Linked DNA regions of Homo sapiens. The protein of the gene in region 1 binds, or shares a complex with, the protein of each later gene. Each region holds a gene or a part of one and is shown in the gene's direction. Other genes may lie near its edges. The genes, in order: TMEM186, TMEM126B, NDUFAF1 and ACAD9.

What was found.
Region 2: TMEM186 (region 1) and TMEM126B share a complex: the UniProt entries of both Homo sapiens proteins name them as parts of the mitochondrial complex.
Region 3: TMEM186 (region 1) and NDUFAF1 share a complex: the UniProt entries of both Homo sapiens proteins name them as parts of the mitochondrial complex.
Region 4: TMEM186 (region 1) and ACAD9 share a complex: the UniProt entries of both Homo sapiens proteins name them as parts of the mitochondrial complex.

The regions. Positions count from the first base shown.
Region 1 is NC_000016.10:8,794,508-8,802,677, reverse strand, and holds TMEM186 (transmembrane protein 186), read left to right. Parts: upstream 1-5,038; 5' UTR 5,039-5,063; coding exon 5,064-5,066; intron 5,067-6,087; coding exon 6,088-6,726; 3' UTR 6,727-7,498; downstream 7,499-8,170. Other genes in the region: PMM2 (phosphomannomutase 2), read right to left, coding at 768-879, 4,730-4,795. UniProt on the Homo sapiens protein: As part of the MCIA complex, required for efficient assembly of the mitochondrial complex I.
Region 2 is NC_000011.10:85,623,720-85,631,592, forward strand, and holds the start of TMEM126B (complex I assembly factor TMEM126B, mitochondrial), read left to right. Parts: upstream 1-4,873; 5' UTR 4,874-4,888; coding exon 4,889-4,969; intron 4,970-5,412; exon of another isoform or gene 5,413-5,522; coding exon of another isoform or gene 5,523-5,543; intron 5,544-7,425; exon of another isoform or gene 7,426-7,597; intron 7,598-7,873. Other genes in the region: DLG2 (disks large homolog 2), read right to left, coding at 2,880-2,898. UniProt on the Homo sapiens protein: As part of the MCIA complex, involved in the assembly of the mitochondrial complex I. Participates in constructing the membrane arm of complex I.
Region 3 is NC_000015.10:41,386,162-41,392,496, reverse strand, and holds the end of NDUFAF1 (complex I intermediate-associated protein 30, mitochondrial precursor), read left to right. Parts: intron 1-3,974; coding exon 3,975-4,049; intron 4,050-4,903; coding exon 4,904-5,053; 3' UTR 5,054-5,144; downstream 5,145-6,335. UniProt on the Homo sapiens protein: As part of the MCIA complex, involved in the assembly of the mitochondrial complex I.
Region 4 is NC_000003.12:128,874,737-128,882,894, forward strand, and holds the start of ACAD9 (complex I assembly factor ACAD9, mitochondrial), read left to right. Parts: upstream 1-4,883; 5' UTR 4,884-4,955; coding exon 4,956-5,105; exon of another isoform or gene 5,106-5,281; intron 5,282-5,354; exon of another isoform or gene 5,355-5,375; intron 5,376-8,158. UniProt on the Homo sapiens protein: As part of the MCIA complex, primarily participates in the assembly of the mitochondrial complex I and therefore plays a role in oxidative phosphorylation.

The DNA.
Region 1 (8,170 bases):
TTTGTAGTTTTAGTAGAAATGGGGTTTGATCATGTCGGCCAGGCTGGTCTCAAACTCCTGACCTCAGGTGATCCATCCGCCTCGGCCTCCCCAAGTGCTGGGATTATAAGCGTGAGCCACCGCGCCTGGCATCCACTTACAATTTCTTACAGGCCAGGAGGCCCTGTGGCTATGGAGATGAATAACCCATACTCCTGCTCTTCAAAAACATATAATCGGATAGTTTACAATAATTACAGAATGCTACATTAGCAAGGTTGTACACTAGAATCTCTCAGAGGTACTCACTGAAATAGGATTCCCAGGCTCCACAGACCTATCAAGTCAGACTCTCCAGTGAAGGGGTCAATAAGCCTCTCTGGTTTTTCGGGGTCCTGTGCTGGAGATTCTGTTTCAGTGATGGGGAGGTGAGGGGGGCTGTCAGAGGGACAATATGAAGACCGGTCTGACTGGGGCTAGAAGGGCTGTCAACGGGTACAAGCAAGAAGTATTCCAGGCAGAGAGATTATCATGTGCAGATACAGCCACTGACCTTTCTAGGTGAATCTACTCACACATCTGAGTACCCAGTTCTCCATCAGTAACTCCAGAAATGTACTGGATTAAAAGCAGAGGAAAAGCAAAGGCCAAGAAAATGTTTCCCAAAAAAGGAAGCAGAAAGCCCGCCATATGGGGACAAGGTTTTAGGGCAGCCTATGATACTTGGCAACAATATCCTCATAAGAAGTTAATCTTTTACCAGATGTAATTAGCAACCCATCATTTACCATCATTTCCCAGTTGCTCCTGCACTTTCTCAAAGTCCGATCCGCCTACCACTCCGATTTTGATCTTCTGCCTCAATTTTTGTAGGAAGTCATCCATTTCTTTGGTAATTTTCTAAATTTCAAGAAAGAAAATACAACAGTCATAAGCCACACAATAATCAGGAGACCAAAACTCTAAGGGTAACACAAGTACATAAGTCTTATTTTCTTATTTAAAAATTAAAGAAAAAATTTTTTTTTGAGATAGGGTCTCACTTGTCACCCAAGCTGGAGTGCAGTGGCATGGTCATAGCTCATCGCAGCCTCGACCTCCCTGGACTCCGGTGATCCTCCTATCTCTGCCTCCTGAGTAGCTGGGACCATAGTTATGTGCCAGCACACCTGGCTAATTTTTTTATATTTTGTAGAGACTAAGTTTTGCCATGTTGCCCAGGCCAGTCTGGAACTCCTGGGTTCAGGAGATCCACCAGCCTTGGCCTCCCAAAGTGCTGAGATTACAGGTATAAGCCAGGTCTATAAGCCTTATTTTCATACATGCCAATTAAGTTACCAGCTCTGTACATAGTTCAAATATTTTAGTTGTAACTGGGGGGGCATCTTTACCAGAATAAACTTAAGTGTTATTTTTACCAAATTTTAAACACAGGTAATATGTTAGTAGCTGTTGTGCACTGTCCCAGCTATTTTTCTATGCATTTATATACCCATCTATGGGCACATATACAAATAGGTCTTATTTTTGAAACATAAATGGAATCATGTCCTGTGCAGGGACTTTGGTTTTTCAGCACTATGCTGTGGTGATCTTTTCATGCCAACACAGATCTAGCTCATCATTCCTTTTAAATGCTACACTATACTCCATTTATGGATTTAAGTTGTTGATTTTAAAATAAAACAACATAATGAAATTAAAGAGGAAGCTTAGGGCCAGACATGGAGGCTCATGCCTGTAATCCCGGCACTTTAGGAGGCCGAGGCGGGTGGATCACCTGAGGTCAGAGTTCGAGATCAGCCTGGCCAACGTGGCGAAACCCTGTCTCTATTAAAAATACAAAAATTAGGCGGGCGCGCTGGTGGGCGCCTGTAGTCCCAGCTACTCGGGAGGCTGAGGCAGGAGAATCACTTGAACCCGGGAGTCAGAGGTTGCAGTGAGCCAAGATCGTGCCACTGCACTCCAGCCTGGGTCACAGAGCGAGACTTCGTCTCAAAACAAAACAAAACAAAACAAAAAAAAAAAAAAAAGGAGAAGCTTAGAATTGATTTTATTGCAATCACCCAAAACAAAACAAAAATGTAAAAGAGTAAGATAACTAGATTTTTTAGTCTCTTCTAAAAGCAAAGCTCCTATCTAGAAAGAGTGGTCTTAGTGGTATAATCTTATGGTAAATTCCAAACTGTGTGATAATTTTAAAAAAGTTATAAACTAAGATGAAAAAATAGCCCTACATTAAGACACATCACAATGTATTTTTACAAGTCTTATAACTCAGCACTTTGAGCAATCTCAGTTGTACATTTACACTGAATGTCTTTTTTTTTTTTTTTTTGACACGAAGTCGTGCTCTGTCACCCAGGCTGGAGTGCAATGGTGTGGTCTCGGCTCATTGCAACCTCCACTTCCTGGGTTCAAGCGATTCTCCTGTCTCAGCCTCCCAGGTAGCCAGGATTACAGGCGCCCGCCATCATGCTCGGCTAATCTTTTTGTATTTTTAGTAGAGACTGGGTTTCACCATGTTGGCAAGGCTGGTCTCGAACTCCTGACCTCAAGTGATCCACCCGCCTCAGCCTCCCCAAGTGCTGGGATTATAGGCATGAACTACCGTGCCCGGCTGAATATCTTTTTACTAGAAATTTAGAAAATACAAAAAACCATTTAATTCAACCTCAGTATATAAACACTTGGAGTTCAATGATTTTTCTTTAAAAAACTTTTTTAGAGTAATACATGAATGTGATTAAAATTGTACAGAAGGGTTTGTAATAGAGTGCAATCTTTTCTACTCTCACAGTGGAATCTGGACCTATTAGACAGAATCTAGAATTGGAGGAGTGGCCTTTAAAAGTCAGAACACGGTGGCTCACGCCTGTAATCCCAGCACTTTGGGAGGCCGAGGCGGGTGGATCACGAGGTCCAGAGATAGAGACCATCCTGGCCAACACAGTGAAACCCCATCTCTACTAAAAATACAAAAATTAGCCAGGCGTGGTGGTGCCTGCCTGTAGCACCAGCTACTTGGTTGCCTGAGGCAGGAGAATTGCTTGAACCTGGGAGGTGGAGGTTGCAGTGAACTGAGATTGGGCCACTACACTCCAGTCTGGTGACAGAGTGAGACTCTGTCTTAAAAAAAAAAAAAGAGTCAGAACTGTGAAAATCAGAAAATCAGAAGCACTTTCCTGAATGGCATACCCAGTGACTAGAACAGCTTCCACCTTAGCACAGATAGGAAATGGCAAACTTGACAGGAACCAATATCCTGAGGCCCAGAGACTTGTACCAGGTTGGCTGTGTGAAACTGAGGAGGTTAGTTCTTCACTGAGTGTGTTTCCTTATGTTTAAAACGGTAATAACAACTATCCTACCTGGGAAGAAAGATGGAGGAAGGTTGAGAGGGTTCAGTGATATGAAAAAGGGTGGCAATGTAAACCCTAGACCACTATGGCCCACAGACCACATTGGGCAGCTGTTTGTTTTTGTAATAAATAAATAAAATTTTATTGGTACACAGCCACTCTTATTTATATAGGGTTTATGGCTGGTTTTGCACTAAAGTTGAGTGGTTACTATAGACCACATAGTCAGCAAAGACAGAGAAGTATTTGCTATATGGCCCTTTACAAAAAATGAATTGGGGACCGGAGTTTTAGACCACTATGGGCTTTTAACAAACCCAAGTGTGTGATCACTGAATTTCAGAATCAGAAAAAGCCTTTGAAGAACTTGGGAGTTGAGCGTCATCACTAGGTAAATCAAACCTGTGGCTGAGAAGGGCAAAATGATACGTCTAAGGTCACACGCATTTGACCTGGACTTCTGGAGCACACCATTGTTACCACCAAGCGAAAACTATGAGGGGTGAGGGTAGAAGCTGAGGATAGTGAGACCATTGGGGTCCAGTCTCAAGTTGAAATGGCCAGTGTTCAGTGGCCAATTTCTGAAAAGGGGCCAGGAGAGCCTCACCTCAAGGCTGATCGTAACTGAAACTTATCTGTGCCTGTAGCAGCAAAATCTGAAAGTGGAAAGCAAGTTTCCAAGGGCCCAAAGAGGCTCTCAGCGGGCAGCCTGTAATAACCTAGGGCTCCTCCATCTCCCTAGTCCATTGCAGGGGCTGGAGATGGGTGTGGTGGAGGTGGCTACTATTTACTGAGGCCTAGTGTGTTGTGTCCAACATACTTTCAAGAACTTACACAATCTCATTTGATCCTCACAGACACCATATGGAACAGGTAACATCCCCATTTAAAGCTGTAGATGTTGAGGCTCAGAGAGGTTAATGACTCGCTGAAGGTCACACAGATGTCAAGAGGTGAAGATGAGACTCCACTAGGTCGGTTTGACCTGGAAACCTGTTTTTAATATCATGACTCACGGCACAGCCCATTGGTTACAGGATTGGGGCCGACACATAGCTGATAAGGGGGCCTGATCTTGGGTTGAAATCCTGGTCTATCAGTCCCGAGCACTAGCGGTGAGTCCAGATTACATTTTCCAACCTAGCACAAGTTTCCTGCTCTTAAGAGTTCTTCAGCCCCGTCTCATCTTTCCAAGCACCAGAGCTCTTCAAGAGCTGGTTAGGGCCTCCCTCTCATTCCTCCAGTGCACCCAGAATAGGGTTCAGCGCCGTGAGGACGTAGGCGGTCCTTAGCCACCCCTTGGCGCCTACCCTGGGTGGTCGATAGCCCCAACTGGGAACAGCACGGGCTCCGCGTCGGCTGCCAGCAGCCCGCCGGCCGCCACTTACCTGCCGCGGGGCGGTGAGGGTCCCATCCACGTCGAAGAGGCAGAGCGCTGGGCCAGGCGCTGCCATGTCCCCAGTTTCTAGCCGCACCTTACAAGACACGTTGGCACGAGGAACTCGGCCCGGAACTTCCGGGTTCGGCCGCTGAGTCGCAGGGCACGTCGGGAAGAGGAGGGGACTCCGTTCCCATAACGCCTGGGAGTAGCGGCAGCCACGATTCCTGGACCGCAACTCCCAGGGTGCAACGCAGATCACGCCCGCCTTGTACATTCGAGCATGCGCTCTTAGGGGTTCCGGGGGCCGGTGGGATTTACTTCCGGCAGCAGGTGGTGGGGCCATGGTAAGGAGGCGGGTGGCGAGCCTTGAGGGGGTGATGCTCTTTGGGGTCGGGGTCAGGGCTGGGGCGGGCAGGCCCGACGCTCGGGTTTCGGACTCCGAGGATCCGTGGGAGGAAGCTCTGGCGTGTGTTACAGTTCGCTTTTCCCGGGCTTTCTCTTGCCCTCCTTGGGTCACATGCGCACAGTAGTAGTAGCTAAAACTCGCCGAGCTCTCACAGTGCATTAGGTACTAAGTTGAGGACTCTGAAACCATCCTCTGGTTCACTGTGTTCTGAGTCCCCATTTTGAAAGGCGAAGAAACCGAATCTCAGGGGTGTGGAGTAATTTGCTCACAAATTACTGTTGGAGCCAGAATTGGAATAAGAGCTTTTACTGCTTCACTACCCACCTAGTAATACCCTTGTGCTACGTGTTGGGGCCTCCCTGCCTCGCTCCTTCTCCTTCTCCGCTGTTTCCCCTTCCCCAGACTAGGCTAAGAGAAAGCAGCAGTTCCCTCCAGCACCCAAGATAGCATATGAATCAAACAGAGAATTAGAAAGTTTATTGGAATAAATATCTCACAGATTTGTTGCTCGAGTTCCCCACTAAGACACTGATTATTTAGTTTCCTGCTTGGGGAAATGTTCACACCCCCTTGTGGATACATTGTCCAGCCCAGAGTTTGTCCTCCCTGGATATGTTTTGAATTAATGACGGCCGCACCTCCTTTCCTGTATTTATTTGGAATTGCCTGGTGGAAGGAGGACTCTGCTGCACTCACTGACTGTGTGATCTTTGGTAAATATCTTACCCTCTCTGGGCTTAGTTTCCCTAGTGGTAAAGTGGAAATAGTGATAACTATCTTAGATAGCTGTTGTGATGCCCACATGAGATAGCATCTGGCTTTACCCTTCCCTCGTCTGGCAATAACGGTTACCTTGCAGGATTGGCAGAAGCCTTAGAGTATGGTGCTTTGCAGATGTTCACCGTGTGATTAATGTGGTTGAGTTCCATGAGAGAAATGGTCTACTGTCTCCCTTTCAGGCTGCCCTTCTCCGAGCTGTGCGTAGGTTTCGGGGAAAAGCTGTGTGGGAAAGGCCTCTCCATGGGCTGTGGTGCTGCAGTGGGCAGGAGGATCCTAAGAGGTGGGTGGGCAGCAGTTCACCCATCTCGAAGGAGAAACTACCAAACGCAGAGACTGAGAAATTCTGGATGTTTTACCGTTTTGATGCCATCAGAACCTTCGGGTTCCTGTCACGACTGAAGTTGGCACAGACTGCCCTGACAGTGGTAGCTTTGCCACCAGGCTATTACTTGTACTCCCAGGGCCTCCTCACTCTCAACACCGTGTGCCTCATGAGTGGGATATCGGGCTTTGCCCTGACCATGCTGTGCTGGATGAGCTATTTCTTACGGAGACTGGTTGGTATCCTGTATCTGAATGAGTCTGGCACCATGCTGCGGGTGGCCCATCTGAACTTCTGGGGCTGGCGGCAGGACACATACTGTCCCATGGCAGATGTGATTCCCCTGACAGAAACCAAGGACCGGCCTCAGGAGATGTTTGTGCGTATCCAGCGGTACAGTGGGAAACAGACCTTCTACGTCACCCTGCGCTATGGACGCATCCTGGACAGAGAGCGTTTCACACAGGTGTTTGGGGTACATCAGATGCTCAAGTGAACAACTGGGACCTGGACCTCTGGGTAACCCTGGGTCGCCTGGATTAACAGGAAGGCTGAGGGTGTGGGCAAGGCTGAAGAAAGGGGACTGGGTACTTGGAGACTTTGCCTGGGCCCCTGGGAACATGTGTTTTGTGGTGAATAAATTCACAAGGCAAGAGCTGGTGTACAGGTTTAGGAAAAAGGCTCTAAGCAAGTTCTTACAGCACTTGTTTGTGACATTCAGTCAGATAATGGCCAGAAGTTTTTGTTAAGAGCCAGTTCTTAGAAGAACCTATGCCAAGGTCACCCATAGAGTCCATTGGTGTGAAAGAGAAAGGCAAAGAGGTGTGGCGGGGGAGCGTAAGATTTGGAGTCAGAAGTCTCAGTTCTGTCATTTGTCCTGGAGCAGGTTATTGAGTCTCTTTGAATCTTGGTTTTCACATCTGTAAAATGGAAAGTCCTGCTTGTTTCATGGGATGGGTGTGGGAATAAACAATAAATGTCAAACGTGTGGCAGACTCAACAGCCTACAGCAGATATTATTAAGCATTTGGTCAGAGGTTTTAGCAGGGAGAAAGGCTTCGAGCAGTCAGCAGGGACTTCCAGAGCCCTGTGCTGTGCCCCTCACATATCCAGCGGCAGAAGGGTCTGTCAGGATGTTAACTACACATTGACGAGCAGATGTCGTCCAGGTAGGCACGAAACCCCAGTTGAGATTTGTTCACCACCCAGAGGTCTAGAGGCTCTTGCTTTGGATGGCCCTGCAGTGTAATAAAGCCAAATGCACCGGATGCTGGTACGTTATTTTATAAACTTAAGCCAGTTATATACATTGCCCCACATAATTAATAATATATGTTCATTATACAATTTGTAACACAGTAAAGAGGAAGGAAGGCATGATCTTTATTATTTTGCCACTCGAAAGTCAATAAGAATGTTTTATCGCTGGGGGCGGTGGCTCACACCTGTAATCCCAGCACGTTGGGAGGTCAAGGTGGCGGATCACGAGGTCAGGAGATCGAGGCCATCCTCGCTAACAGGGTGAAACCGTGTCTCCACTAAAAAATACAAAAAAATTAGCTGGGCGTGGTGGCAGGTGCCTGTAGTCCCAGCTACTCGGGAGGCTGAGGCAGGACAATGGTGTGAACCTGGGAGGCGGAGTTTGCAGTGAGCCGAGATCACGCCACTGCACTCCAGCCTGGGCGACAGAGTGAGACTCCGTCTCAAAAAAAAAATATTTTTTTTTATTGTGTAGCCTTCCATTTTTCTTAACCATACCAAGATACACCTAACAAATTTATCCTTTTAATCATTTTTAAGTGTGCAATTCAGGGACATTAAGTATATTAACAATGTTGTACAGGCTGGGCACACTGTCTCATGCCTGTAATCCCAGCACTTTGGGAGGCTGAGGCGTGTGGATCACTTGAAGTCAGGAGTTCAAGACCAGCCTGGCCAAC
Region 2 (7,873 bases), on another chromosome or scaffold:
GCTGCATTGTACTAGAAAATTCTGTTAAAGCATATTTTTATCTTTAAAACAGCAACTTTCTGCTGTAAAACATGGCAAATGACGTACCTATCATTAACTTTTATTTCTTATGTTAACACAGTAGGAAATCATATCAGATCAATTCAAGAAGACTTGTTAAAACAGACCCTTATAACACACTATGGTCTTGCATCATATCAGAGAATACTAATACAACTTATCCTGAATTGGTCCTAAATTTTCACAAATTAAAATATGTCCAAGATTGTCCCAAGGGCTCACCTGGGAGCAAATAAAGTTACTACTATAGATAAGAAAATCTTGAATGAAAAGCAACTGCTGAGGAAAAAAAACCTTCTATGAGGAAACAGAAGAGTCTTCTGTTGATAAAACTGAGATCTGTAAAAATGCGAAGAGACTAGAGTGAGAGAAGTAGAAAGTAATGTCATAAAGCAAACGAGCAGTTAATATGGGGTTTGAGGCACAGTAGTTTCAGCTTATCCAAGGGCAGTCCAGAATGGCACCTAGAAATGGGCTTAGTGAGATGTCACACCCATTCCCAATTCCCACCATGGTTGCATGGTATCAGTAAAAGAATCTCCTCTCTCTTTGACAAAAATATACTAACTAAATACCAAATGAAAATCCATCTTATGAAAATTTCATACTTTAATGAGAATATGTTCAACAATGAATAAACACTTGGCTCAGTGAGGATAGTTATTGTTTAGAATCACATTAAGTCTAGCTTTTTCGTCATGTCTACCACATGAAACAATGAAGAGAGAAAAAGACTCAAGGTGACAGAGGACAGTGATCCCTGCAGAATAAATCTAGGTTAAACTTAAAAATACTGTTCTTATATTATATAAACAGTAGAGATAGTAAGCATAGCCAATGAAAAATACAATATACACATAACTTGTTTGGCTAGTTGTCTATAATATTCAAGAATATGTATCATAATACTAGCAGTTTTAAGAGATTAAAAGCAAGATACATTGTTTCTCTAGATCAGTTTATAAGGAAAATATACAACATATACTCTGGTATCATAGAAATATAAACTGGTTTTTCTAATAAGAACTTGTTGATTCCTTTAAAAATTCAATCCATTAGTCAATTCATTATTGAAGAAGGAAAGAAGAAAGGGAAGGAGGGAGGCAAAGGAAGAGAGGAAGAAGGAAAGAAAGGAAATTCTTCTAAAGTATTATAATTTCACCAATGTATCAGCAATTTCTGTAACAGTTCTTTAAAGGGAAGAACTTTTAAGAAACTCGGTTTATGGGGTTTAGAAACATTAAGTTCTAAACTTTCTAACTAAACCTGCTTAGTTAAGTTATACCTAGAATATCAATTGACCTTCCTCCTCTTCCTTCCCACATACCTTTTTATCTCTTTCTCTGTCTCTCCTCCTTCCCATTCTCTCTTCCTTTCACTCTTTTCCTCTCTGTCTCTCTCTCTCTCACACACACACGTAATGTGTTTAATTCCATTATTAGTTCAAAATAAGGTAATCCAAAAGAAACTCTCTAGAGAAATGGTAGAAAGAATAAAAACACACATCAACTTAAATATGTCAAAGAGCCATATCATTTATTGGCTACATTCCCAAAACCATTCTTGTTCTAGATAAACCAATTGTGTCTGGTCTGGACAAGTGTGGCTCCAAAATCTCAGGCAGTTTACTTCTGTCAGTGGTATTATTAGAAACAGCAGGGGGAGGAAACAATCCCAATCTTAAATCCCAGTGTGCAAATATCACAGTTCTAGGTGTTCCAAAAGTTTTATATATCATTGTCCATCTCTACAAATATCAGCTTGGATAAGGCATCTCAGTGATTATAAGTTTCCTCAACATCCCTAACAAATCCACAGGTAGAAGAATTAAACACCATGCAGAGATAAGTTCCACTTTAACCTGCAATTCACCCAGAGCTTTAGTTTCAGATTGTAGCAACTCACATAACTGGACAACATTTGGATCTATATTAGTCCAGTATAGCAGAGTTCAAGGCTGTTCATATAAGTTTTGATTCAAAACTCTTGAGAAACTCTTTACAGTTGATCTCACCTTCCATATAATGTCAAAACAAAACAAAACAAAAACAGTCCCAAACTAGGATCCTTTGGAACAAAGTTAACCTGGGGTGCATCTAAGCTAAACTGAATCCCCAAGTTCAGAATATAATCAACTATGCTTCAGGAATTCACTAGATCTTGATCAATTCCAATAATAAAAGTTGTTGAGGAGGGAGGAAAAAAACAGGTGTTTGCCCCATTTGGGGAACTTGACAATCATGTTATTGGATAATGCATATATCTGGAAAAGCACAATAGTCACGAAAGTTGTGCTTTATCACAAAAGTGAAGATTTACACTAGAATAAATCCAAATAATAAGTCTATTTTTTAACCAAAAGATAAATTATAAAGCTGTAATTTTGTTCAGTGCAAATGAAATTACTTTGCTACCTTTCACAATTCTGTAATTAGTTTGATAAATATTAAACCCATGAGGAAGAGCTCCACTGCACAAGTTTCTTTTTTAAAGACTGCTTAAAAGTAACCTTCAACAAGCTAAGAAAACAAGCTAAAGGAGACTCCAAATCTGCGGTACTGAATCTATTCTTATTACCAACGGTGATATAAACAACCTGATTTATGAAATCATAAATATCTATCAATAAATACTATAGTCTTGCTTCCTTTTACTTTAGTAAAATAATATTACTGAATTATGTACCACTGAAACTATATTACAATAAATATTTCCCCCAAACTGAAGCAAAACTTTACTCTCAAATGGAATATAATTTAAATTACAAGTACCAGAACCAACAAAAGGGAGAAATATTATATAGCAACCTTATGGCCCACCTGTCTTCTTGACTGGCATTCTTGGGTCTTTCCACTGCCACAGGAGTCAATATCTCTTTTCAGGTCTCAGTTTGATCCAGCTGGATTGAGGCCAAGAGCCAGGTAACTGTTGCAAACCACTTCAGTGTTCAGTTTTGAAATCCAGGCTGAGTCTTCTATGTCAGACAAAGAAAATAATGATGTATTTTTTCCACAACTAAACTTTTTACACCGCCCACAGAGTTTACAGCAACGTAATTTTTTAGTTTTTCAAGTTTTTCAATTTTCAGAAAATATTTAGACTGTTTTTACAAACTGGGAAAATTATTGTAAACATGAAGAACGTTACTGAAATTCCTCTTCAGGCAGCAACATTTTTGGAAGTTCAATGACTAACTCAATTAAGGCACAAACCAAATTTAGACAGGTCTCATTACTTTATACATGGTCAAATTCAAAGATGATGATAAAGATACTCAAATCTGTAGAGAAAAATGTAACCCCACCTCCCCAAAAATACTTTTAAAAATCTCTTTGACTCCAGTCTCTAAAAAGATAGGTGAGTTTGAACAGTTTTCTGTGGCAGAACACACATTGAAAGGCCCCCTTATATTTACTGATCAGAAGTTCCGGATCTCACCCCCTCAGTAACTCAGAATCCAGCTTGCTGTCCCTTTCATTTTTTTCTTCTGTGCTCTCCAAGCCCCCAGGCTTGATCCTTAATGCCCCTCTGATTCTGATCCTCCCATGTATTAACCGAGAGGATTGAAAAAAAAGGAAAGCAATCCCTTGGCATGGAGACATTAAAGTGACAGTGCTACTCAATGGGCACTTGATGCAGGATGAGTTGGCGAAGCAGATTTCTTCACACTGGAGTCATTCACATCATGCCATCTCTTCGCATTCAAGCAGCTCCCTATCCGGCGAGGAAAAACACTGAGACTTCGAGAGAAGCCAAACCTTCCCCCAAAGGTGTTTTCAGAGACGCCGTAGTAGTATTAGACATGTAAGCATAAGCTATGTAAACGGTCCGCGATTTCCTAAATGAGAAAGTGCAGCTGCTTGGCTTTCACATCCACCTTTTCTCTCAATCTCTCTTCAAACTACCCACCTTCCTTTTGCAGAAAAGACAAGACATTTCTTTGCCACCGCTGGCCACCCCTGCCCAAGCCCCGTTCTTTTAGGGAAGAGCACTGAAATGTCCTGCACCCTCCACGCGATGAAGTGTTTCCTCAGGCAGGAGCAACAGCAGCACTAGAAATTATATAACTCTCGAATTTGGCTTCTGTAAGACATGGAGACTGGAGGGTCGGGGGTTGCCGGTCTGGGAGATACTGCTGGGCATTTAACGTGCACAAAACAGCGCCAGGCCTTGCAGTGCCCCCCACCCCGAGACACGGCTGACAAGTGGGTCTTCTCGCGGGGGTAGTGGGCAAATTTCTCTCCGGTCTCTTTCCAAGCGGGGCTAAAGGATGCAAATTGAGGGGACTACAGACTGGGGAGAGGAGTCAGACGGCTGAGAGGAGAGGAGGCTAGTCGGGGCTGCTCTGACGGCGCTGGGCGGCTGGTCCGGGGTTTGGAGGAGGAGGTGCCCGAGAAACAGAGCTTTAACACCACACAGGCCAGGGCAAAGGGGCGAGTTCCCTCAAGGACTGAAAGGGGCAGGCAGCTAGTTCCCAGCTGCCCTGAGGAGAGGCAGGAGCGCAGTAACATTACAACATTCGGGCCGCCCCATCTTTCCCGCAGGACGCGAAGAGATCAGGGAGCTAAGCTGATAAATAGTCAGGGAAGGAAATACTCGGCTGGCGAGGGGGGCAGGCCCACAGGCGCCTGGACCTCCTCTAAGCGAATAAGTGGCCGTAATTTCTAGACGCCGCGCCCAATCACAGTCAGGATGGAGGGCGCGGCTTTTGACTGAGTGGGGGCGGGCCCGGGCTGCAATCGAGAGGCGTTGAGCCGTAAATCAGCACCACTTCCCGCCCAGGGCGTTCTGGGTCCCCGCCCACCGGCAAGTCACATGAGCCACCAAAATGGTGGTGTTCGGGTATGAGGCTGGGACTAAGCCAAGGGATTCAGGTGTGGTGCCGGTGGGAACTGAGGAAGCGCCCAAGGTAGGCGGAAATCCGAAGTGGTATGGGGGGTGATTTCTGCACCTTCAAAGTGTTGGCAGACTCTTCTAAGATGATACCTTTAAAGGAGATTTGAAAAGTTAAAACAGCTCCCAAGTCCATGCAAGGAGCAGTCGATTAAGTCTCCAGTTGCTGTGGAAAGAGGCGGAGAGAACGTAGATGACCTAAATTCTAGTCCTCATTATCTGCAGTTTGTTTTCTCTTGTCTCCAGGCCTTTGCACAGGCTTTTTCTTCAACTTGGAGTATTTCCCTGCTTCTATCCGTCCCAACTCCCCTGCCAAACTGTTCTCTTTCGGTTATTGATTTAAATGTCACTTCTTCCGGGAAGCCTTCCCACGCTTCCTCTGGCTAGATTGTTTGCTTTTTCTTAGGTTGTTGGGTTTTTCGTTTATGTCACTCTCTCATTCTGTGTTTAAATTGCCAGCTTTTTTGTTCTGAACTCCCACTGCGTTGTGGATTCCTGAGGATGGGATGACTGTATCTTGATTACCCGGAGGTCTGGCATATACCACGTGCTCCCTAAATTATGAGCGAATGTTGAATAAAATTCTAAAGGTGAAATTTATTATTAGGTGAAAAATTTATTATTAGGTAAAATAATACACATGAAAGCACTACAAAACCGTTAGATGATTTGCAAACTATAAACCTACATAAATGCACTCTTACTGGTATAAGCGTGGTGACTAGTTGAGTGGCCTTAAGGGGGAAGGGGTGTAATGAAAGCACTGGAGTCTTTGACAGTGCCTTGCAAAGCTTAAGCACTCAAATATTTCCTGTGTTCTTTCCAGTATTTCAGTATTTGCTGTCCTGTAATCATAATCCTGGGTGTCTGTTTTCCCTATAGAGACTTTAGGGTGTAGACTAGGTAGGAGATTAGTAGAAGATATTGCCTGGAAGTTTGTTTTGTTTTTTGTTTTTGGTGGAAGGTGGAGGATTTCAATGAATTGGATGAGAGCAAAACAAAAATTTATCTATGGTTTATGGTTACTCATGTTATTGACGTCTGCCAAGACAGCAGATGTCTTAGTACAATAGATGGGTTAGGTATAGAATCTCCCTTAGATGTTACTATCCCTTATACTTTCCATTTGGGTGTCAGGGAGAGGGAAAAGATGTAAGTCTAGTCACTGAAAAATTGTAATTTGTAAAATATTTTACCTTTTTTTCCCCCTGCCCTCTCCAGAAATGTTACAGAAAAAGATTGAGTACATTTCTGCCATGATGCAGAGAAAGAAACTGGTCCATTATTACTCATTGTGTAACACCATAAGAAGGTTCAAAGGAGCTCATACCTTCTGTATGTTGATGCCAGGAACTGTGTATAATGAACTGGCCTTCTATAGTTAGGATTGGTACATACCGCTCATTCAGCAAATGAGTATTACAGTGATATTCAACATGTGTCCATTGACTACAGCATCAGAAGCACTAAGTGCTATTAAAATGCAGATTCTAGGCCTCATCCTACTCCTGCTGAATCCAGGTATCTCAGGAGGGAATTCATGAGACTGCATTTCAAATAAATACCCCATGTGATTCTTGTGCATGCTGAAGGTTGAGAACCACTGATTTATTAAGTATCTTGTGTGTTCATTATGCTTTATCCCCTCTAATCCTCTTGTCTAGGACTCCTTAAATTTGAGATTTAGTATTTCCCTTTAATATAAACATTAAAATTGAGATTAGTGTAAATTTGTAAAGAGACTATTTAGCTAATCTGGAGGAAAAAGAGTAAAAAGCACTGAATTTAGCAGCAATAGACCTTCCACTTGGCTGCTGTAGTAGGTAAACATTTGCAACCACGTGTTTGGATTTAACAAATGTTATTAAGACTTTTCACAGAGACTCTAGAGTCTTGCCCAGAGCAAAACATTCAGAAACGATCCTCTCTGAGAGTGCAGGGTTTGTTTTTTTGTTGTTGTTGTTTTGTTTTGTTTTTTAACCTGTCTAGTTTCTGTTAAGATGCTACTGGCCAGGTCTTCATGGTCCCTTGACATTGGCAGCTGTCTGTTCATCACACTTGGGACACAAGAACCTTCCGACCAAGGAGCCCAGTGCCATGGGTCTCTGGGGCCGGGCACGGTGGCTCACGCCTTTAATCCCAGCACTTTGGGAGGCTGAGGCAGGTGGATCACCTGAGGTCAGGAGTTCGAGACCAGCCTGGCTATCATAGTGCAATCCTGCCTCTACTAAAAATACAAAAATTAGCCGGGTGTGGTGGCAGGTATGGGTCTCTGCTATACCACATGACCATTTCTAGCAAAGGCTCTGCTTCCACCACAGGTGGTAATAGGGAACTGGATATATAATTTATGTACTCCAAAGTAGTAGCCACAATCCACTGCCTGTTCCCTTCCTGGAGCAGTGTCCCTCTTTCTGATTTTTCTCTCTCACTATTCTCCAAGGCAATCCCTGCTCTCTCCTACCTCTCTAGGAAATGAAACACGATTTCCAAAATGAACTTAATCTTTCATGAGAAACTGAGGATAGAGATGTCAATAAGCAGCCACTGTTTCCACCTCCCCACCTGAAGAGCTAGGAGGACAACTACAAAGAGCCTGACTGCCTTCTCGGAATGAGGAGAGAGGAAAACAGCAACAGTATCAGTATGTTAGCCTTCTACACTAAATCTCAAGCAAGCCAACCTTTCAGACCTTCAGTTTGCTCATATGTATAGAAATAATCATTATACTACCAATTTCTCAAGTTAGTGTGTAAATCAGAAAGCCAATGTCTGTATTGTAGGATGTTTAGCAAGAAAATAAAAAATAATAACAAAAAGCCAATGTCTAACAGATAATAAGAGCTCAGTAAATGTTGATTGAATTACTAACAAAGTATGTGAAAGCAGACGACACAGTACCTGGCACACTACTAAACTG
Region 3 (6,335 bases), on another chromosome or scaffold:
CACCTGGTCCCTCCCTTGACACATGGGGATTACTACAATTCAAGATGAGATTTTGGGTGGGGAGACAGCCAAACCATATCAGGACCCTTCAGTGGTTTCCCATTACAATTCGAATAAAGTCCAGGCTGGGCTAGGTGGCTCATGCTTTTAATCCCAGCACTTTGGGAGGCTGAGATGGGCAGATCACTTGAGGTCAGGAGTTTGAGACCAGCCTGGTCTACATGGTGAAATCTTGTGTCTACTAAAAATACAAAAAATTAGCAGCAGGTGGTGGCACACGCCTGTAGTCCCAGCTCCTCAGGAGGCTGAGGCAGGAGAATCGCTTGAACCTGAGAAGTGGAAGTTGCAGTGAGCCAAGATCGCGCCACTGTACTCCACCCTGGGTGACAGAGTAAGACTCCATCTCAAGAAAAAAAAAAAAAAAAAAAAAGAATAAAGTCCAAACTCCTGCACATGGCCTATGGGCCTACAATATCGGACCCCTGTCTTCATCTTCCATCTCTCCTCCTGTCTTCATCTTCCATCTCTCCTCCTACCTCCTTCCTCCACACCAGCCCCTTTTCTGTCAGATTTAACAACCTCATTTCCATCTCAGAGCTTTGCACTTAGTGTTGCTCTGCTGTAATGCTCTGCCCCCATGTCTTCACCTGCTTTCTCTTTCCTGTCATTCACCTCTCGGCTCAAAAGTTGCCTCAGAGAGGCCTTTCCTGATTCCTGTAACTAAAGTTGGACCCTCTAATCCAGTTATTTCAACACCACCATCCTATAACTTTCTTCATAGAACTTATCACTAACTAAAATTACTTTGTTCATTCATTCATCTGTTTATTGTCACTCTACTGCCTTCCCTGGAACATAAATTATATAAATTCTTTTTTTTTTTTTTTTTAAGATGGAGTCTCACTCTTACTGCCCAGGCTGGAGTGCAGTGGTGTGATTCCAGCTTACGGCAACCTTTGCCTTCCAGGTTCAAGAGATCCTCCTGCTGGGACTACAGGCGTGTACCACAACGCCCGGCTAATTTTTGTATTTTTAGGAGAGATGGGGTTTCATTCACCAAGTTGGCCAGGCTGGTTTCGAACTCCTGACATCAAGTGATCCACCCGACTCGCCTCCCAAGGTATTGGGATTATAGGCGTTTGAGCCACCACACCTGGCCCTAAATTCTGTAAATTCTGTGAGAGCAGAGATCTTGCTTATATTGTTCCTACCAGTTTCCCCTGTACCTAGAATTTTGTCCTAGTGCCTAGCACAAAATAAGCACTCAATACATACATATATATGTAGTAATACAGATATATAACACAAATTATATATACTTGTATTTAAGTAATATATATATAATGAATTATTATACAAAATAACTACTTCATTATAAAAACAATTTGGGAAGTACAGAAAAAAATCTTGTACTACCACTATCCAGTGATAAAATACTATTTTTATTTTATTTTATTTTTATTTTTGTAAGACAGAGTCTCGCACTGTCGCCCAGGCTGGACTGCAGTGGCGGGATCTCGGCTCACTGCAAGCTCTGCCTTCCAGGTTCACACCATTCTGCCTCAGCCTCCCGAGTAGCTGGGACTGCAGGTGCCCACCACCACGCCCAGCTAATTTTTTGTATTTTTAGTAGAGACAGGGTTTCACCGTGTTAGCCAGGATGGTCTTGAACTCCTGGCCTCATGATCCGCCCACCTCGGCCTCCCAAAGTGCTGGGATTACAGGCATGAGCCACCATACCCAGCAGATAAAATACTATTTTTTTTTTTTTTGAGACAGAGTCTGGCTCTGTTGCCCATGCTGGAGTGCAGTGGCACGATCTCTGCTCACTGCAAGCTCCGCCTCCCGGGTTCACGCCATTCTCCTGCCTCAGCCTCCTGAGTAGCTGGGACTACAGGCACCTGCCACTACACCTGGCTAATTTTTTGTATTTTTAGTAGAGACGGGGTTTCGCCGTGTTAGCCAGAATGGTCTTGATCTCCTGACCTCGTGATCCGCCTGCCTTGGCCTCCCAAAGTGCTGGGATTACAGGCGTGAGCCACCGCGCCTGGCACAAAAATACTATTTTTAATATGTATCTTCTACACTTTTCTAGTCACACTTTTCCCTTCCAGTGGTGTTTTATAACATATATACAGTATTTTCACTGAACTATTGTTTACAACTTTCTCTTCAAATATATTTCTACATCATTTTTAATGTCTGCATGATATTATATAAGTAGACAACAATTTTGGCTGGGTCCAGTGGCTCACATCTGTAATCCTAGCACTTTGGGAGGCTAAGGCAGTGAATCATTTGAAGCTAGGAGTCTAAGACAAGCCTGAGCAACATGGCAAAACCCTGTCTCTACAAAAATACAAAAATTAGCCCAGTGTGGTGGCATGTGCCTTTAGTCCCACCTACTCAGGAGGCTGAGGTGGGAGGATTGCTTGAGCCTGGGAGGTCAAGGCTGCAGTGAGCTGAGATCACCCTACTGCATGCACTTCAGCCTGGGTGACAGAGTAAGACCCTGTCTCAAAAAAAAAAATTTTTTTTTCTTAACTTGTTCTTCATTATGTACATGTAGATTTAGATTGTTTTCAGAGTTTTCTACTGTCGGAACAAACTCTGAGGTAAACATCCTTAACTATTTTCATAGGCTATATTCCTAGAGATAAAATTACTGGAATAACTATTAATATGTATAATTCATTTTTATTTATGTTCATTAAAATTTATTTACTTATTTGAGACAGGGTCTCTCTTCTGTTGTCCATGCTGGAGTGCAGCATGGGCTCGCTGTAGCCCCAACCTCCCAGCCTCAGGTGATCCTCCCACCTTAGCCTCCTGAATAGCCAGGACTACAAGGATGCACCACCATGGCTGGATAAGTTTTTTGTTTTTTTACTAGAGTCTTGGTTTCACCGTGTTTCCCAGGCTGGTCTTGAACTCCTGGGCTCAGTTGATCCTATTGTGTTGGCCTCCCAAAGTGCTGGGATTACAGGCATGCACAACCAGGCCCAGCCATTTTCTTCCTTTGTTAAACTCAAAATATAAATAAAATTAGCATACTCTGTACCTGTTTTTTGTGTTTTTAAAATTTAGGAATATATCCTGGAGAGCTTCTGTATAATTATTTAGGCAGGGTGTGGTGGTTCATACCTGTAGGCCAAGGTTGGCAGATTACTTGAGCTCAGGAGTTTAAGACCAGCCTGGCTAACATGGTGAAACACCGTCTCTACCAAAAAAAAAAAAAAAAAAAAAATTAGCCGGGTGTGGTGGTGTGCGCCTATAGTCCCAGCTACTCAGGAAGCTGAGGTGGGAGAATCGCTTGAACCTGGGAGGTGGAAGTTGCAGTGAGCCAAGATGGCACCACTGCACTCCAGCCTGGGTAACAGAGTGAGACCCTATCTCAAAACAAAACACAAACAATTAAAGCCAGATATAGTTTTAAAAGATCGTGCTTAATAATAAGTAAATTACATAGAGAAGAAATATGAAAATAAAGTTGATGAATAAAAAGGCACACTTGAAAGTTCAAGAGTAGAAGGAATAGGACATTTCTTTTAGTTCAGTTTCTAATGTAGGAAGGAAGGGAAACGTTAAAATTCTTTTTTCTTTTTTTTCTGAGATAGAATCTAGCTCTATCGCCCAGGCTGAAGTGCAGTGGTGTGATCTTGGCTTACTGCAACCTCTACCTCCCGGGTTCAGGCAACAAAGTGAGACCCCATTCTCCACAGAAAGAAAAAAAAAAAAAAGCTGTGTTTAGGATACTAGTCTTTTTTCCATAAATGTTACAAATATTTTTTTCATAGTTAACCCTTTATCGTTTGGCCTGAGTTATATCTTTGATCCAAATGGCTAGCCATTTGTCATAATACATATATGACATAATTTTAGAATAAATGTAAACTCATTTTATCGTTACAATTACATGCAGATGCCTCAATTGCTTACATTTCAGTTATGAAGTAAATGGTTTCTTCTTTCAGATTCCTTTTTCCAAATTTTTCTTCTCTAATCGAGGAAGAATCCGGGATGTTCAGCATGAGCTTCCGCTTGATAAGGTAACATATTCCTGTATTTTTCACTCAGAACTGTATCATTTTTAATGAATCGGAACTCTGGGGAGACTGAGTTCATTTGAGAAGGCTGGCAGATGAATATTTCTTCTCAGGGCCACTGCTCTTATACCCAGCCAGAGGCTGACTTAGACCTCTCCTATGAACCATACCCCCATCCTGAAGGAATTTTAGAAGGATCATTTTTTAGCATGCCTACATTTTACTTTAGCTATTTTCCCCCCTCCCTTCTCTCCTAATTTAGCTTTAAAATAAGAGTTTATGAACGCTTCAAGGAACTCCATTAGGCATTCATGTCGTCCTTACTAGTCTTTTTGTTTTTTGACATGGAGTCTTGCTTTGTCACTCAGGCTGGAGTGCAGTGGCATGATCTCGGCTCACTGCAACCTCTACCTCCCGGGTTCAAGCATTTCTCCTGCCTCAGTCTCCTGAGTAGCTGGAATTACAGGTGCCTGCCACCACACTTGGCTAATCTTTGTATTCTTAGTAGAGACGAGGTTTTACCATATTGGGCAGGCTGGTTTTTAACTGGACCTTGTGATCTGCCCACCTTGGCCTCCCAGTGTTGGGATTACAGGCCTGAGCCACGACGCCCGGCCGTCCTTCCTAGTCTTAAGTGGCACTACCTAATGAGGAGAGGGGAGGAAGTTGAATGAGGAAAGAAAAGCAGTCTTGTATTTCCTCTTACAGTATGCTATGGGAGAATTAGTAGTATTTGCTAAGGGCTGATAGCATTAAAACCCAGTTATAATCATCACCTGATGGGATTTTAAACTCCTGGAATAATCTCAGTACGTCACTGTATGAGATTTTAATCAATTTCTGTATTTTAAATTTAGATCTCTTCTATAGGATTCACCTTGGCTGATAAAGTGGATGGTCCATTCTTCCTGGAGATAGATTTTATTGGCGTGTTTACTGATCCAGCTCATACAGAAGAATTTGCCTATGAAAATTCTCCAGAGCTTAACCCAAGGCTTTTTAAATAAAGATCATATGGTAGTTTTGTTTTACTAATCTAAGGGTACTAGCATCTACAATGATATAGACAAAATAAAATATTTCTTTAATGGCATCCAACCAATGGCTAGTATGTATTCTCTCTCTTTTTTTTTTTTTTTTTTGAGATGGAGTTCTGCTCTGTCGCCCAGGCTGGCATGCTGGCGTGCAGTAGCGTGATCTCGGCTCACCGTAACCTTCGCCTTCTGGGTTCAAGCTATTCTCCTGCCTCAGCTTCCCGAGTAGCTGGGATTATAGGCATGCACCATCATGCCCAGCTAATTTTGTATTTTTAGTAGAGACAGGGTTTCTCCATGTTGGTCAGGCTGGTCTCGAACTCCTGACCTCAGGTGATCCGCCCGCCTTGGCCTCCCAAAGTGCTGGGATTACAGATGTGAGCCACCGCGCCTGGCTGGCTAGTATGTATTCTCTAAGACAAGTTATAATGCTGTTGCTGGCCAGGCACTGTGGCTCACGCCTGTAATCCCAGCACTTTGGGAGGCTGAGACGGGCGGATCACTTAAGGTCTGGAGTTCGAGACCAGCCTGACCAGCATGGTGAAACCTCGTCTCTACTAAAAATACCAAAGTTAGCCAGGTGTGGTGGCACATGCCTATAATCCCAGCTATTTGGGAGACTGAGGCAGGAGAATTGCTTGAACTCGGAGGCAGAGGTTGCAGTGAGTTGAGATCACGCCACTACACTCCAGCTTGGGCCACAGAGCGAGACTCTGTCTCAAAAAAAAAAAAAAAACCCACAAAGAAAGGCTATTGCTAAGAGGGACTGGATAAGGGGAACACAGCATGAAACCAGGTTCTCTGGTGTACTTTATCTCATAGAATGCAAGTACTGATGTAAATGTACTATGTAAATAACTTAGTGTTTTTGCTCAGAACAGTTGCTGTTAGGAACATTTCCTATATGAGTAGTTTCTAAGGCAGGAGTCTCTGAGATGACTGTTAATGGCCTTCTACCACTCTGTTGCATTTAGATTTCTTCTAATTTCATTTTGTTTTGCTTTTTTGAGATGAAATTCCCTCTGTTGTCCAGGCTGGAGTGCAGTGGTGCGATCTCGGCTCACTGCAACCTCCGCCTCCCAGGTTCAAGCGATTCTCTTGCCTCAGCCTCCCCAGTAGCTGGTATTACAGGCCCACACCACCATGTCTGGCTACTTTTTTTGTGTTTTTAGTAAAAACAGGGTTTCACCATGTTGGCCAGGCTGGTCCTGAACCCCTGACCTCAGGTGATCCGCCCAAGGCAATAACTCAGTAA
Region 4 (8,158 bases), on another chromosome or scaffold:
TAGGGACAAACGCCTGAATGGTAAGGGCTCAAGATCCATTAGAGAGAACAGTTAATGATGCAGAGAAAGGAAATTACCCTTCAGTAAGTGAGAAGGTCTGGGGTCTAATGAGAGGTTGGTTTTGCCAGGAGCAGACAGTTCATAGTAACAGAATGTAGATAATGTGGGCACATATGCAGGGGGAGGGGGTAACTGTGCCTGTGAAGTTCTCATCTGACTGCATGGATTTTCCCAGTGGAATGGGAAGCAAAGCTGACAGCTGAGAGAAAGGGCAGGGCAGGACAGGTGGTGCCAGAGGTTTAAAGATGGAAACAGATCTGAAAGATTTGTGTTCTTTCTTCGCCATGCTGCTGGGAGGCAGGAGATCCCAGGATAGAGCACCACACTGCCCCAGGTCCTGGGTAAAAGGGTTTCCCATATGTTAAAGACATAGCTCTGCATTTCCTAGCAGGGCAAGCTGCTTTTAGTCTGAGTCTTAGCTTCTGCATCTGTAAAGTTGCTTGCTATAAAGGGATCAGCCTGACAACCTCAGAGGAATGTTCCAAAGAGAAGCCAGGGAATAACTTCTGTGATACAGGATCAGCCAACATTCAGCCAAGCTGAAAACAAGGCACCCCTAGGAAGGGGGAAACGCTACTGTGTTTACTCCTATTTTGTAGATGAGCACACTGAGGAACAGGGAGGAAAAGTGACTTGCTCAAGGTCACAAGATCTTCTTGAGCCTGCACTGTCCATGTCCTCTGCTGCACAGTACCTTCCAATCTCCATGCACTACATATCTCACTGGGCTCTACAACATCTTCAAGTGAGACAAATCACTAGCTCCATTTTAAAGCTGAATGAATTGAACCCAAGGCTAAGCCTTTCACCTCTAAGAGGATGGTGTGTTTAATAACCTAGCTGTTACTATTGGCTGGGTTGTGAGACCTGTGGAAGTCACCCTGCAGCTAGATTTCTGCGGAACCTCAAAGGCGGGGGTAGGGCTAGGGCTCAGCTGGCAAGGAAGCCCACAGGCCACTAGAGGGTGACATGGGAGCGGCATGGCCTGAGATGTTTAAGAATCAGAGAGGAAGCCTTGCACATTTTGGTGTCAAAACACCGGAGTCGAGGGTCACTCAGTAATCACTCACCTGGGTTTTCCCAAATTGTCCTGATACGAACGCTTGTCAAAACCGTTTCTGCCCAGGCACTCCCTTTCCTAGCCCCTGCCCCCAAATTAAGTTCTTCCCAAGGGAATGTAAGTGGAAGGAATCCGTGATTTCTGTCCGGTTTTTAAAAGATGGGATCGTTCTTCGCAGTCTCCTCTTCCCCCAGCTCTAGGCAGAGGCCTCTAGGCCCTTGGGGATGGTGGTGTAAGGTGGAAGGGGCAGGTCTTTGCAGCAGCATCTGCAGGAAAGCCTTTCTCCTACCTTTTGATGGTTTGGTGGTCTTTGGCTTGTAAAATAATCAGTCCAATCTCAGCCTCAGCTTTAATAGTAAGGGATCAAGCAGTAGTTTCTACTCAATGTTCCTCATACCCAGAGTCAAGGATTCTGCTATGCTAACACTAACATTATGGCTAAAGAATGTTCACTTTCTGTTAAGTTATGTTGTGAATCAGTTGTATTGATGTGAGGAGACATTCAGAACTACCATGAGGATATTTTAAACAGTTGTTAAATCAAGTTTAGCCTAAAGCTGCTTCCTTATATATTTTAAGTTCGGCTTATAGGTTTTCTGCACATTGTGAACTATAAGTGGAGGCATAAACAGACCGTAGCCTATACTTGTGCCAATCACAGAGTTTTTGCCAATCAAATGTAGCCAACTGTTCAAACCATGTTCAAATAAGGCAAGGCAGAGCTGTAACCAATCCAGCTGTTTCTGTACCTCACTTTCCTTTGCTGTCCATAAATCTTCCATTACATGGCTGTGCTGGAGTGTCTGAGCTTGCTCTGGCTCAGAAAGCTGCCTGATTTGAATCGATTGCTCAATTAAACTTTTTTTCTTTTGAGACAGAGTCTTGCTCTGTCGTCCAGGATGGAGTGCAGTGGTGCAATCTTGGCTCACTGCAACCTCCACCTCCCGGGTTCAAGTGATTCTCATGCCTCAGCCTACCGAGTGGCTGGGATTAGAGGCACTCACCACCATGCCCAGTAATTTTTGTATTTTTGGTAGAGACAGGGTTTCACAATGTTGGCCAGGCTGGTCTCGAACTCCTGACCTCAAGTGATCTGCCCACTTCATCCTCCCAAAGTGCTGGGATTACAGGTATGAGGCACTGCACCCGACCCGGCCAATTAAGCTCCTTTAAATTTAATTCAGCTGAAGTTTTTCTTTTAGTACACTGAACAGGGGAAACTGTTTAAAACAACATCATATTTCTCAGAGGCTAATACTTAAATATAAGATGGAAGGATCAAAGTGTAACTATTGTCATTTTTATCACTTGCTGTGCTAAGTGCTTTCATGTGGATTTACTTAAACCTTTTAAAAGTCCTGTGAGATAAAGGGTATCATACTCATATTTACAGATGAGGAAACTGAATTTAGAAACTAGTATAGTAGTGAAACAGCAAAACTCTTCTGCTATACTCTATTGGAGCAATTAGAAACTATGCCTTAACATTTTTCTAATTTTTGTTTTGTAAAATTCTGTGCCACTGGATTTCTCATTTGGTTGATTTAGGGAGACCTGTGTACACTAAACATTTGACACATTAACAGAGTACTTGACTGATTTGACTACATTTGTTTGGCAAAAAAGTACAGCAGCTCAAAATTGAAACAGTTTTTGCAACATATGTATATTTTTCTTTGTTTTACCTATGGGGATAATTTACAAAGGCAGTTGTTTCCAAATACCTTCTTGTGAAGCTGAATGCTAAGCAAGTAAATATCAACCACTGATGAAGAAACCAGGTGAGAGACCTTAGACAAGGTAAAATAATCTGAAAAGATGCCTGCAAATATTTTGCAGTTTAGACTCTACGCCTTGCAGAGTTTTGAGCTCTTTTTTCTTGATGTTGTGTTAGCAATGTAATCTTTTTTGGTGCTGAGCTTAGCTTGCTGAGATGAAAGGGATTTCTTTTTCTTCTCAAGGAGTTGACACAATGGAAGCTGGAGGCATTTCCCAACACTGTGGTCAATGCTACAGTCGGGGAACAAGCAAGTCTCCCCCAAAACAGGGATCGGAGTTTTTAAGGATAATTTGGCGAGTAGGAGCTCGGGAAGTGGGGAGTGCTGACTGGTTGGGTTGGAGATGGAATGATAGGGGGTTGAAGTGAGTTTTTCTTGCTGTCTTCTGTTCCTAGGTGGGATTGCAAAACTTGTTGAGCCAGATTACCGGTCTGGGTGAAAAAGCAGAGTGGCATTCTTCCTGGAGGAGCTGGCTGAAGATCTGTAGAGGGCCCATGTGCCACGTTCAGAGCACTGTTGGGCTGTGAGGTGCCAGGCATGCCCTGCCTCCTACGTGGGCCCCTATGGCCTGGCCTTGAAACCGCCACTGCAAAATTATAACCGAGACAATGAAAGAGATCTGACCTAACCAACTCCATCTTGCTTCTAACCTCCAAGCTGTCCTTGTTCATTCCTGAGCGTAGGCTGAACTAACCTTGGGAAGGAATGAGTTTATAGTTTAACTTCAAAACAAAAATAGCCCTTTCCCGGGAAAACAACAACAACAACAACAAAAAACAACCTCTTCTTGCCTGGGACCAGTTGGCCTTTGGAGGACTAACAAATTAGCTATAAGATTAGAAATTACAGTTTAGAGGCCATACAGCCTTTGGTTGCAAGAGTCTGAACGTCCCCCAAATTGTTCCTGGGAATAACATCACTGTTGTAAAACCTACCAACACCCAGACTGGTAATCTGGCTCAACTAGTTCTGCAATCCCATTCAGGAACAGAAGACAGCAAGAAAAACTCACTTCGGCCCCCTATCAGTCCATCTCCAACCCGACCAATCATGCACCTCCCACTTCCCGAGCTTCTACTCGCCAAATTATCCTTAAAAATTCCGATCCGTTTTTGGGGAGACCGATTTGGCTAATAAAACTCCCTTTCCAACACACCCGGCTCTGCGTGAATTACTCTCTCTCTATTGCAATTTCCGTCTTGATAAATCAGCTGTCTAGTCAGCGGGCTGTAACCTTGGGCGGTTACAGCCTGGCCTGTCCCATCCCATCCAATAGTTCCCATCTCTTCTCAGCTCTCTCTGTAGTTTCTCTTCCTCCGCCTGCCTTTTAAGTTAGTGTTTCCCAGGACAGAGGTGACTCAGTTGTATCCAGACCGCTCTGTGACTGAACACCCACTTTCTTTTCCTTTTCCAAAAAATATATGTAACATACATGTCAACTAGGAACAAAACAGTATCTCAGGAATCCACCATCCAGTTAAAAATGGACCCTTACCCTTACCGTGCCCCTGCAGAGACCCCAATACAGCGCATTTCCCTCATTCTTTTGCTTTTCTCAAGTTTTACCACGGCCTCGTGGCCACAAGTGACAAAAGAGACAAGTGGAGGCAGCTGAGCCGGCCTTTAGGTTTCTGTACACAGGGAGATTTCCCATGGCTGGCATTTATGGAAACAACCGCTGGTATGTGAAAAACAGGTCCGTCACCGCCGTCACGACGGCCAGAGATTATACCCGCCGAGATGCCCGCGGCCCAGGGCCTACAATTTCCTCCGGCCAGCTCCTTTGGCCGCGCAAGCGCAGTGGGGCCGGCGGGAAGCGTAGGCGTGTGACGTCATCAGGCGGCGCGGGCCAGCCAGGTGCACGTGACTAAGGCCTTGGGCGCGGCAGGTGGTAGCCTTCCCGCCCTTCTGGCCTCTCCATCCCCTGCTGCGGGGGACCGCGCAAGCGCAGTGAGTACTGCACGTTGTCGCGGGCCAGTAACGTCATCAGACGTGTGTGTGTCCCTGCGGCGCTAAGAAGGGGAGACTGAGGCTGAGGCTGGGGAACATCGGGCAGCATGAGCGGCTGCGGGCTCTTCCTGCGCACCACGGCTGCGGCTCGTGCCTGCCGGGGTCTGGTGGTCTCTACCGCGAACCGGCGGCTACTGCGCACCAGCCCGCCTGTACGAGCTTTCGCCAAAGAGCTTTTCCTAGGCAAAATCAAGAAGGTAACGCGAGCCCTGGGCGAACCCTTGCTGTCTGGCTCCCGCTTTTCACCCTCAGCTGCAAGACTGGTGTTGAACTTTGTGAGATTCCCCAAACCTGCCAGAGAGATACACCCTGCGGCCGAGGCGTGTTAACACTCCGGATTCCTGAGTTCCAGGAAAACCTTCCCAGAGAAAGGGTGAGACATTTCCAAGACGGGGGACCCTTGGAAATGTGGTGGTGACGTGTTCCAGCTAAATTTTGTCAGGGGAATTCGGAAAACTCTAGGCTAGGTAATTAACAAAGCAGCCTTCATCTCAGCTGGTCTGGTCTGGAAATGTGCGGGGCTTCCTCTCTGATTCCTAAACAGCTTACACCATGTCCCTCCTCAGTCACCTTCCAGCGCCCTGGGGCTTCCTTCCCCAGGTGAGCCCAGCGCCTCTCCCTGCCATTGAGGTTCCTCAGAAATCTGGCTCCAAGATGCTTCCCAAGGGTGGCACAACCCAGCCAATAGTAACAGTTTGGTTATAAAACACTCATTGTCTTCTTAGAGTTGGAAGACTTGGGTTTGGTCTTGGCTCGTTGACTTTGAAACTCAGTTGTTTTTTTTGAGACAGAGTCGCGCTCTTGTCGCCCAGGCTGGAGTGCTCACTGCAACCTCCCTCCTGGGTTCAAGCGATTCTCCTGCCTCAGCCTCCGGAGTAGCTGGGATTACAGGCGCCTGCCCGGCTTTTTTTTTTTTTGTATTTTTAGCAGAGACGGGGTTTCACCATGTTGGCCAAGCTGGTCTAGAACTGACCTCGGGTGATCCGCCCACCTCGGCCTCCCACAGTGCTGGGATTACAGGGGTGAGCCACCGCGCCCGGCCAAGACTCAGTTCTTTCAGCCTTAAAATGGAGATAGTGTTGTGTCTCCTTCACAGATGTGTTGTAGAGCCCCAGTGAGATAAACGGTGCATGGAGAGTCTTCTTAAACTGTAGAGTACTGTGCAGCAGAAGAGAGAGCTGGCTTCAACACTTAGTCTTGTGACCTTGGAGCTGACGGCTGCACCTCCCTGTGCCTCAGTGCATTCATCTACAAAATAGGAATAAACACATTTCTTGCTCTTTCCTTTGTATTTCATTTTATCTTCTAAGGAAACCAACAGTATACTTGCTATTTCGTCGAGGTGCCCTACTTTGAACTTGGCTGAATGTTGGCTGATCCTGTATCACAGAAGTTATTCCCTGGCTTCTCTTTGGAACGTTCCTCTGAGGTTGTCAGGCTGATACCTTTATAGCAAGCAACTTTACAGATGAAGAAGCTAAGACTCAGACTAAAAGCAGTTTGCCCAGCTAGAAAGTGCGGAGCTATGTCTTGAACATATTGGAAAACCTTTTACCCAGGACCTGGGGCAGTGTGGTGCTCTATCCTGGGACTTCCTGCTATCCAGCAGCATGGTGAAGAAAGAACACAGATCTTTCAGATCTGTTTCCATCTTTAAACCTCTGGCACTACCTGCCCTGCCCTGCCTTTACTCTCAGCTGTCAGCTTTGCTTCCCATTCCACTGGGAAAATCCATGCAGTCGGATGAGAAGTTCACAGGCACAGTTACCCCCTCCCGCTGCATATGTGCCGGTATTATCTACATTCTGTTACTGTGAACTGTCTGCTCCTGGCAAAACCAACCTCTCATTAGACTCCAGGTCTTCTCACCTACTCAAGGGTAATTCTTTCCTTTCTCTGCATCATTAACTGTTCTCTCTACTGGATCTTGAGCCCTTACCATTCAGGCATTTGTCCCTAATGGCCATAGAAGTCAGTAATGACCTCTCTGTTATCAAATTGTGTGATCTGTTCTCAGACCTCATCCTACTTGACCCATCATTGGCATCTGACACCGTTCATCCTTCCACCCTGTTGACGCACTTTCGTCTCTGGTTTCTGAATCACTGTTCTCGCCATTCTCTGAATGTTCTAAATACTTCACTGGCTGATACTTCTCTGTGTCCATTGCTGGTTCTTATTCAGCTCCTTGACCGCTAAACAGTGACCAGTGTTTCCAACTAGCCAAGTTGGAATTTACTAAGGCTGGGTCTCGTTTCATCTACAGCCATCTGCTGGGTGACCTTATTTAGTGTCCTGGCTTTAAATATCATCAATATCCTGATGCCTCAAGTTTCTTTCTTCAGTTCAGATTTCTCCCTGAACTCCAGATTCCTTTTGCTTTTTCAGAGTTGGGGGCTTTCTCTGTCACCTGTGCTGGAGTGCAGTGGTGCCATCATAGCTCACTGCAACCTTGAACTCCTAAGGCTCAATAGATCCTCCCACTTCAGCATCCCCAGTAGCTGGGACTACAGGCACGCCCTGCCACACCCAGCCAAGATTCTTTTTTTAATCTACCTTTGTACTCAAAAGCTGTACTAAGAGGTCTAACAGGCATTTGAGATTAATAGATCCCAAACTGAGTTCCTGGTTCCCACCCAATCCTGCTCCTTCCACCAGCCTTCTTTATCATAGATAATGGTGGCTCTGTTGTTCCACCTGTTCAAACAGAACACCTGGAGTCACCTTGTACTCTTATTCTCCTAGTCCACTTCTAATTCCACAGAAGATCTGGTTTTCTCTACTTTTAGGTTCTTAGAATCTGACCACTTTTAGGCCCTTCTGCTGCTACTTTGGATCAGGCCAGTGTCATCTCTCACAGCCTTACTGGGATTAGAGCAGAAACATGGGACATGATGCTTAGAATCTCAGATTGTGTAGGCCAGTGGTTGTCACCCTGCCCTAAGCTGGACCCAAGCTATTCATGGAGTGTCCTGGAACTGCTGCAGGGATGGGTGGGAAGTTGAGTGGGTGGGATTTGGGTGCCTGTTTTCCCTATCAGCAGTCTCAGTCAGAGCCGCCTGCTTCTGTCTGTTTTACATATTTGGTTTCTGCACTAGATTTCTTTGAATAACAGGTTCCACTTTTTTAGATAATTTACAAACTGTTTATTGCAATTGAACTCTCCTCCCCTAAGGCATTGACCTGATTTGATAACATCAGGATCTTTCTCCCACGCCCCTGCAATCTCTCCTGTGTGGCAGGTTTTCTG